2 linked regions of the Homo sapiens genome follow. The protein of the gene in region 2 purifies or fractionates together with the protein of the main gene of each other region. This does not show direct contact. Each region holds a gene or a part of one and is shown on either strand. Other genes may lie near its edges.

Region 1 (4,645 bases), on a different chromosome or scaffold from region 2:
TTCCTCAGTAGGCCACACTCATTCTGTCTTACTTAGCCGTTTGTGTTAGCTGTTCTTTTCCTTTCTGTCCTGTCCTTCTGATTGGCTGGCTTTCTTTCTTTCTTTTTTTTTTTTTTTGAGCTGGAGTCTCGCCCTGTCACCCAGGCTAGAGTGCAGTGGTGCGATCTCAGCTCACTGCATCCTCCACCTCCTGAGTTCAAATGATTCTCCTGTCTCAGCCTTCTGAGTAGCTGGGATTACAGGCGCCTGCCACCACACCCAGCTAACTTTTGTATATTTAGCAGAGACGGGATTTCACCATGTTGACCAGGCTGATCTCGAACTCCTGAGCTCTTGATCCGCCCGCCTCAGCCTCCCAAAACACTGGGATTACAGGCATGAGCCACCAGGCCCGGCCAGCTGGCTCTGTCTTAACATTAAGTACTCAGTTCAAACGTCACCTACTCAGAGTGGCGCTTCCTGATCAGGCAGTCTAGAGTAACTATCTAGGTGCTCTATTACATTATCACAATATCTATTAAATTATTATGTTATTATAATTCTCAGCAGAGCACTTAGCACCAACTATTATTTTTCCTTGTTAAATTAATTACTTTTTCCCAGCAGTAGACTGTAAGAGCTCCATGTGAGCAGGTATTTTGTTTGTCTTGTTTGCTTTAGTTTCAGGGCCTAGAGTAGTATCTGGATACAGCGAAGGCACTCATTAAGTATTTGTTAGTTAACCAATTAATTATTAATATTTCGTAGTCACACCTTGAAGACCTCAACCTAGGAGATCTTTATCAAAAGAACCTTGATCTGCTGGCAGATTTGTCAAACTCCTGTCCAGGCTTTTGACAGATTTGGCAAATGCCGCTTTTCTCTTTTCAAAATTACATTAGTAGTCCTTGTAAAACTGTGTCTAACATTTTATTGTAACCATATTTGGATTTAATTTTATAAATTACGTTTGGAAAGAGGACAAGAGACTCTTTGTAAATAAGCCTGTAATTTTTACTGGTGACAGCTTTTGTCACCTAGAATCAATGTGCTTATTCTTTTTGAGATTGCTGAAATGAGCTTTGTAAATATTTTTGTTGTAATATCATTTTATGGTATATTCTTCAAATTATATTGCTTTATCCATGGTGAATTCCTTCTGGAAATGGAGTAGGGGAGCACCTTGGATCTTTTCTTTAAACCCAAGTACCCAGGTTTTTTTGTTCTGTGTTTTTTCTATTTTCACACCAAAGTTAAACCTTTACAGTATTAGTTTTACATATAGACAGTCTTGCATTGTAGATGTTGTAAGGCATTGTCTCTACATATAAAATTCAGACTTGGAATATTTGTAGGAGATGTTAATAACACACAACAGAGGATCGACTTCTGGGCATGTTGTTTTCATAATCATTCGTCAAGCTCTCATGCTTAGCCTTGTTTTAGACACTGTACCAGAATTAGAGGGAAAAAACATAATCAGCTTACATTACAGGATTTACACATTGATGTGGTTCAGTCAAAATGCAAATAGTATTGACAGATATTCAGGGGCAAAACACAGGGGCAGGATGAATTTAAAAAGCAAGGGGAAGGAAAGAAGAAAGAGGAGGGAGAAAAATGACTATGTTATTAGTCATTGCTCTACACTTGAAGGCTGTAACAGATGGACACTTAGATAACCTTCATGGTCTGGTTTAATTTACTGCATATAATTTCCACAGTTCTTTCAGATGATTAAATGAGTGGTTCTTGACAACAATTACGAACATTTAAAGGTGGAAATTTATGCATATTTCCCTAAATTGCATGTCAGGTAGTTCCTGCTATAATTTTGCTAAATGTCCATGAATCTCTTGAAAAATACAACTCATAAATGTGGAAGGCCTATACATAACTTCCATTTCCTCCCTCAGATTCAATAATAATATATCATTTTGTGGCACAAATCTTTTTTTCTTTTTTTCTTTTTCTTTTTTTTTTTTTTTTTTTGAGACAGAGTTTTGCTCTTGTCCCCCAGGCTGGAGTGCAGTGGCGCAATCTTGGCACACTGCAACCTCCGCCTCCTGAGTTGAAGCGATTCTCCTGCCTCAGCCTCCTAAGTAGCTGGGACTACAGGTGCATGCCACCATGCCTGGCTAATTTTTTGTATTTTTAGTAGAGGGGGGTTTCACCACGTTAGGCAGGATGGTCTTGATCTCCTGTCCTCATGATCCGCCTGCCTCCGCCTCCCAAAGTGCTAGGATTTACAGGTGTGAGCCACGGAGCCCGGCCCAGCACAAGTCTTTTATCTGTTGTTAATCTGATGTTATTTAGTGGAACACTTCAGATGCATTCATAGAATTATACATTTTACTAAATATATCACAGCTTGAAATATAGTTTCCCCATTTTTATCAGCTTTCATAGAATTCTTAATTGATTTTTAAATGGCTAATATTGCTTATAAAAAGTAGTTGATCAAGCTCTTAAATTCCTATTTCTGAGTTCCTTGTTCTAGTTCACACTAGACCAGAGGTCAGCAAACTTTTTTCATATAAATCCAGATAATAAATATTTTAGGTTGTGTGGGTCCAGTCATCACCGTCATAACTGCTGTTGCAGTGTAAAAGCAGTCATAGAAAATAAATGTGTAAACGAATGAGTATGGCTGTGTTCCAATAAAATTTTATTTATGGACAACAATATTTGAATTTTATGTAATTTTCACGTCACAAAATAGTCTTATTTTGATTGTTTTTCAACTTTCACAGTGGGTTGAATTTGGCCTGTGAACCGCAGTTTGCAAACGCTGCCCCAAACTCAAAGTCACATCGTGAATTGTATGTCACGTGTCTTCAGGAGAAGAAATTTGAAACAAATCCAGAGAGAATTGTGTTTTACCTTAGTTACTCCGTTACTTAGTAGTTATCAGCTATGTATTAGACCAGTCACATATCTGTTAAAATCAGATATTTGATTCTAAAATATCTCAAGATTAGTTCAGAAACCTTGAAGGTAAATAAATGAAGGACCAGGAAAAGACTTCAGCTTAAAAGTATCAGGTTTTTAACATTTTTGTTACAAATTGGATTTGTTTTCACTCACTTGGATTTTTATCTGCTTACTTTGAAACAGTTCATCAGGTGAAATCACTCTAGAATTATTAGGTCAGCTTCTTTTATTTTCATTTTTCTTCAGAGGCCACACTTCTGCGGAAACAACATGCCCAGGAGGAAAGATGCTTTATATTTCAGTTGTGTTACATATAGGTCAGACATTACTGTTTTGAACTCCAAATAGTATTCTCACTTTATAGTTGTATTTGCATTTTTATTATATTATTAATACATATTGCTTGAAACAAGCATGGTTTTTGGTTGTCAATCCTTTTGTTAAAATATAACTTTATTTATTGTTATTATTTTGAGACAGAGTCTCACTCTGTCACCAAGGCTATAGTGCAGTGGCATGATCTTGGCCTACTGCACCCTCTGCCTCCCAGACTCAAGCGATTCTCGTGCCTCAGCCTCCTGAGTAGCTGGGATTACAGCCATGCACCACCAAGCCCAGCTAATTTTTGTGTTTTTAATAGAGATGGAATTTCGCCATGTTGACCAGACTGGCCTCAAACTCCTGGCCTCATGTGATCTGCCCGCCTTGGCCTCCCAAAGTGCTGGGATTACAGGTGTGAGTCACCGCACCCGGCAAATGTAACTTTACTTTGAAGACTTTTGTCTTAATGGGATTAGAACTGCATTACCATTTAAAGATGAGTTTCTGCTGGTTCCCATAGAAGTGTCAACATTTTTCTACGCAAATTTTTTCTTTTTTTAATTTGAGACGGAGTTTTGCTCTTACTGCCCAGGCTGGAGTGCAATGGCGCAATCTCGGCTCACTGCAACCTCCGCCTCCCAGGTTCAAGCAGATTCTTCTGCCTCAGCCTCCGGAGTAGCTGGGATTACAGGCATGCGCCACCATGCCCGGCTAATTTTGCATTTTTAGTAGAGACGAGGTTTCTCCACGTTGGTGAAGCTGGTCTCGAACTCCCAACCTCAGGTGATCCACCGCCTCGGACTCCCAAAGTGCTGGGATTACAGGCGTGAGCCACCGTGCCTGGCTTCTACCTAAATTTTTTAGTACTTTGTATACTATCTTGTCCCTCTTTTTGTGCTTCCTCTTAAACTTATGCTAGCTTGGATAAAAATGTACTTTAGGAAGTCTCCTGACATGGGAGAAAACAATTTTGAAAGCTTCAACATACAACGTATTTTGTGCTTCATTTCAGAGTAAAATTTTTCCCAAGGTATTTTGTTTTTCTGGGACTATTGTTAGTGCATGTTGTTTTTCCTGTTTTATGCTTCTTTTCAACCTGTTTGGTTTTCACTAAGGGATTCCAATGGGTTTTTTTTCTATTAGCATAATTACCAATGTTGAATGTCACCTGGGCATAACTACTTTTCCTAACCCTGTCATACCATTGCTATCTCTTAGCATGTTTTCTCAAGTGAGAAAATGTCTTGACTGAATGGCCTTCTCTTCTTCATTTACTCATTCTCTATTCACTCTAGATTTATCAAATACCTGCTCTATGTGAGGCACAATACTAAGCACTCTGTACATACGTGTATTTTTTTTTTTTTGATGTTAGAGCTTCATCACTGCACCCTTTTTTTTTTTTTTCCCC
Region 2 (5,428 bases):
CAGGTCATATGATAGTTACTGTTCATGGCTTACGTATAATTGACCAAATTTCAGTAGCTATGTTATCAGCTTTCCAGTTCTTTGATGTTAATAACTTCCCTCATTGGCCTCAGGGGCTTTGAAGTTTTGTCCCTTTTTCCTGTTTTATAGTTGCTCAGCACCTAATCTTATCCCTTTCCCAATTCTTCTGACAGTGTTAGGATAAGATGAAAGGACCAAAGTGGCATTCTGGACATCTGGTTAATATATCTCAAAGGGGTGCACTTTAGTGATAAATCTCCAGTGAGATACAGTTCAAGGCTATTTTTGACATGGACCCTGCTGAGCCATCTTCCAGGAAACCTCTACATTTTACCATCCTTGAAACAAATATATTAGGCTCCTGCAAAGAGATCAGTTTTCACTTTTATAATTCTAAGAATGACTACTAAGTCTTATCTGCAAATATCTGATTCAGAAGATAATAGGGATAAAAGTACAAATTGGACATCTTTTGGCAAAGGAAGCTCCTTAAAACTCAGCCTTGGTTACATCAAGAATAAGAATTCCTGTGTCATCCCTAAGAAGTAGATTTTTATATAACTCAAAACCAGCTCAAGAAATATAATATTTAAACAAACTTCTCAGTGCTTGGTTAATAAGCATTGTTATGAAGAAACAATGAAAAATAAAACAAAAACAACTCAACTTTAGTGAGTTTAGTGAGTGTCATTGCAAAGAAAATTTCACATTGCACTTAGGGATTTTATAACCTTAAGGCTTATTACAAAGGTCACACTATTTCAATTAAGAACAAAAGTGAGTTTTAATAATAAACTGTCAGCATTTCAAATCTTCTCTCCTAGGTATCTTGAAATATACAACATATTGTTGTTAACTATAGTCACCCTATGTGCTATCAAAAGCTAGAACATATTCCTCCTATCTAGCTGTATGTTTGTACGATGAACTAAACTCTTTTCATCTCCCCTCACCCGTCTCAGCCTCTGGTAACTATTCTACCCTCTGGTTACCTTCTACCCCGTACCTCCATGTGTTTACATATTGTTGTATAAATTTTGTGGAAAAAAATCCTTTTTAACAAAATAATCTGCTGGCTATATTTCTTCTCATATTATTTGAGGAATTGCATTGAATTTTGGGTACTGAATTTTGAGGACGTGAATTAAGGATGAGCTACATCTCATGACCTCGTCACAGACCCCTACTATAAACATCTGCATACAAGTTGGCATATTACAACAATAGCATGAGAGTCAGGGTCTGTAGAAATTCCCAGCCTAACTTTTTCCTGGACTGGCCAAACTGAACCTGAACCAGTGTATGGGCAATGTAGTATGCTTGTCAGAGGCACCAAACTGCTAACTCAAAAATAAACATGACTAAAAGAACTTCTCCCAGTATACCCATATGAAGCTGACCATTTGCCCAGTAAGAATGCAATGAAAAGGGCTTTTAATGTACAGCCAAATGGCAGTCCAGCAAGGAAGCTCATGAGCAACCTACAAGTAGTGAGCATTTTGATGTAATAGAGACTTACATGCAATTCAGAATTATGTTTACAACATCACAAAACAAAAATTTAGAGATAGGCTCTCACTCTGTTGCCTAAGCTGGAGTGCAGTGGGATGATCATAACTTACTGCAGCCTTGAACTCCTGGGTTCAACTGAAGGTCCTCCTACCTCAGCCTGCTGAGTAGCTAGGACCACAAGCACACACCACCGCAACTGGCTTAAATTAAAATATAAATTGTAGAGATAGGGTCTTAATGTGTTGCCCAGGCTGCTCTTGAACTCCTTGCTTCAGGTGATCCTCCCACCTCAGCCTCTCAAAGTGCTGGGATTATAGACCTGAGCCACAGCACCTGGCCAACTGACCTATGATTTTACACAATGGCTGCTCTTCCCTTCTTTAACTATTATTCATTCTTCTTTGATCCTCATTATTTGACTGTAGTCCTTCTTATGTCTTGTTTTCCTTCATTACCTCTTATTCTATCACATTGCCATTGTCATTCTCCACTGGGGAAGCTCTTTCTTGCTGAAGACTGGAAAGACAAGTCCATTCACCTGATTTTCTGTAAGATTGTGGCTCATGTATTGACTTGTCAGACAATTCTGAAGTTTCATCAAAATTAGCTATCATGCTTGCATAATGGCCCTGAACCCTCACTCCTACTCTTAGCTTCAGTACCATCTATGTCCTCAACTGTCCATGATACTTATAATTCCCGTAAATCTTCACTTAACACCTAACATTTATTTAATCTTACTAGGCAAGGTAATAAGAAATACATAGGTTTGCCTCCAGAAGTGGGTTCTTAAGAAACCCACCAGAGGAACTCCTCTTTCAGATGTCCACATTAGAAGATTTCATATCACATTTGGTGCCACAGGCCTTTGACAAGGAGGATGCAGAGGAAAAAGCAAACTTCACCTCTTCCTAGGGAAAGTGTTGGCCTGCCAACAGGAAAGAGGCAACATCTGGGAAAATCCCCAGTCTTTGCCAGGAAGAGTCCATGCCAACCCCACCCCATGACCCCTGTCCTGCCTACTCATTGTCACTCTTCACTCCAATGTCCCTCCCCCAGATCCTCTTATAAAATCCCACTCTTTCCTGACCAGACAAACCATACCATATCCCACCAGAGAGGTAAGTGGGAGCTGAGAGAAGATGAGACCCAGGGAGGAGCTACTGCACATGACACAGGAGAATACATGGGAGGGTCCCTTCCTCAGGGAGCACAGGAACTCTGAGACTCAGCAAGGGTGTCCTGGGAGGGCTCGGGGATGGGAGAGTACACAGATTCACAACTCATTCAGAACTGTAGAAGATGATGGATGTGACCAAGATCACTTTAGTCCTAGGGGACTAGAGAAGGAAAATGACATGAGGCAGTGGGGTATCTGTGTGTTCTCCCACTGACCACGCTTTCTTTAGTGACTCCTGATTGCCTCCTCAAGTCGCAGACACTATGCTGCCTCCCATGGCCCTGCCCAGTGTATCTTGGATGCTGCTTTCCTGCCTCATGCTGCTGTCTCAGGTTCAAGGTGAGATTGCTTTGCCTCTAGCACTGGGTTCCCTATGAATCCTCAGAGCTAACAAGAGGAGGAAGGCTCCTGTGTGTCATGTGAGGTAATGACGTGGTGTCTAATGAACCTGCCTGCAGTTCTTGCATCATCTCTCCTTCCTTCAGGTTAACTTGCAGTGGGAGGCTCCATGGTGGTCCACTAACAGTGGAATGAGATGGCTTCCATTTAGTCAGTGGACTCTAATATACACTGGTGGGAAAGTGGACTCTAATATACACTGGAGGGTCAGTAATGAGATGTGGGGAGGGACAATGATTGGAGGACCCAATGTAGAGACAGCCCAGAGTGAGGAGAGTATTGAATGGTTGAATAAGGGGAAAGGGTAATAAGAGACTGGATGGTGCTCCATTTACTACGGCTATTTTGAGATAAAGAATTTCTGAAAACATAAGGGAAGATGAAGGGGTGTCAGGAATGTGGTCTTCCTCCCCAAGGACATTCCTAGGTATTCCCCAAGGTCATCTCCCACCCCAAGCCCCACTCTTCATTTTACCCTCCCCCCTCTTCTTCCACCTCAGGTGAAGAACCCCAGAGGGAACTGCCCTCTGCACGGATCCGCTGTCCCAAAGGCTCCAAGGCCTATGGCTCCCACTGCTATGCCTTGTTTTTGTCACCAAAATCCTGGACAGATGCAGATGTGAGTGGTTAGATGTGGTGTTGGAGGTGACCGGTCTCAGGGGGAGGAGGGTCTCCATTCAGGAGAGTTCCTTGGGAATGAGGATGAACACGTTTATCTTTCACACAGTCCTCCTCCCACCTACCTTTGCCCTGCCCTCCCTCAGCAGGTCTCAGGCTCCCTCTCATTCTCTTTGTTGCCCTCAAAGCTGGCCTGCCAGAAGCGGCCCTCTGGAAACCTGGTGTCTGTGCTCAGTGGGGCTGAGGGATCCTTCGTGTCCTCCCTGGTGAAGAGCATTGGTAACAGCTACTCATACGTCTGGATTGGGCTCCATGACCCCACACAGGTGCCAGTATATCCTCCCCTCTCTGTTACCTCTCAAGGTGCTATTGTTGCCCAGGCCCACTCCCTGTCCCCTGTGCCTGCCCAGGAAGTACTTCAGGGAGCACTGGAGCTCAGATTCTGGGGAATATTTGGGGGGAAAGGGAAGGCCATGAAGCATCTGAAGATCTGAGTTCTGTGGAGGTCTCTATCTTTCAGATAAAATCAATCTGCCTTCCTCAGGCGTATTACATAATTCTCATATGAGGCTGGGTTAACAATTCTCTGAGCTTCATGGAGTCTTTGCCTACTATTCTGAAGGAACTCTTAATGAAGATAGGATCAATTTTTGTCCCCATACAGAACTGACATTACTTTTGAGGTTCACAAGCTAATCACAAATGCTACATCAATTATTGTTCTGCAAATAATATATTACCTTGAGTTGTTCCAAAGGTCTTATGTTTATTGGCTGGAATTTTCCAATAGCAATGAGGAGTCAAGGAAGAGTTTCCTACTCACCGGCAGCATCTGGAATAGCAGACCAACTTTCCTCATGCTGGGGAGCAAATCAGGTGTTGCAGCTAAGGGGCCATGCAAGAAGAGCTGCAATGGCCATTCCCTTCACCTGGCTACCTCCTCTACTCTACAGGGCACCGAGCCCAATGGAGAAGGTTGGGAGTGGAGTAGCAGTGATGTGATGAATTACTTTGCATGGGAGAGAAATCCCTCCACCATCTCAAGCCCCGGCCACTGTGCGAGCCTGTCGAGAAGCACAGGTAAGAAACAGAGGAGCTGCCTCTTCCCAGTGTTTTCCATCTCATCCCCCATTCCTGGGTCTGACCTTCAGGAAATCTTCCTGAGCTAGAAAATACAATGTTAGTGTGTCTTCTCTTATCTCCTCTCTTCTCCACTTTCTTTGAATCTCTCTCCTGGATTGGGACACTGGTGAAGGTGAGGGAGAGGCTTTAACTTCTAGGCTAAAACCTGGGATGCCCCTTCATTGGATTCACAAGCTTCCTCAGCCCCATTCCATTTATGTCTTCTGTCTCTCCAGCATTTCTGAGGTGGAAAGATTATAACTGTAATGTGAGGTTACCCTATGTCTGCAAGTTCACTGACTAGTGCAGGAGGGAAGTCAGCAGCCTGTGTTTGGTGTGCAACTCATCATGGGCATGAGACCAGTGTGAGGACTCACCCTGGAAGAGAATATTCGCTTAATTCCCCCAACCTGACCACCTCATTCTTATCTTTCTTCTGTTTCTTCCTCCCCGCTGTCATTTCAGTCTCTTCATTTTGTCATACGGCCTAAGGCTTTAAAGAGCAATAAAATTTTTAGTCTGCACTTGTTTGTCTTGTATATGCCAGTGTCATAGCCATACTCTGAGAAGGACAAA

The links.
Region 1: the proteins of REG3A (region 2) and CMSS1 purify together in Homo sapiens (affinity purification with mass spectrometry; one large-scale study listed by BioGRID and IntAct). This does not show direct contact.

Annotation. Positions count from the first base shown.
Region 1 is NC_000003.12:99,823,824-99,828,468, forward strand, and holds part of CMSS1 (protein CMSS1), read left to right. Parts: exon of another isoform or gene 1-42; intron 43-4,645.
Region 2 is NC_000002.12:79,156,954-79,162,381, reverse strand, and holds REG3A (regenerating islet-derived protein 3-alpha precursor), read left to right. Parts: upstream 1-2,628; 5' UTR 2,629-2,654; exon of another isoform or gene 2,655-2,942; 5' UTR 2,943-2,976; coding exon 2,977-3,052; intron 3,053-3,612; coding exon 3,613-3,731; intron 3,732-3,918; coding exon 3,919-4,056; intron 4,057-4,683; coding exon 4,684-4,810; intron 4,811-5,088; coding exon 5,089-5,156; 3' UTR 5,157-5,376; downstream 5,377-5,428. UniProt on the Homo sapiens protein: Acts as a hormone in response to different stimuli like anti-inflammatory signals, such as IL17A, or gut microbiome. Secreted by different cell types to activate its receptor EXTL3 and induce cell specific signaling pathways.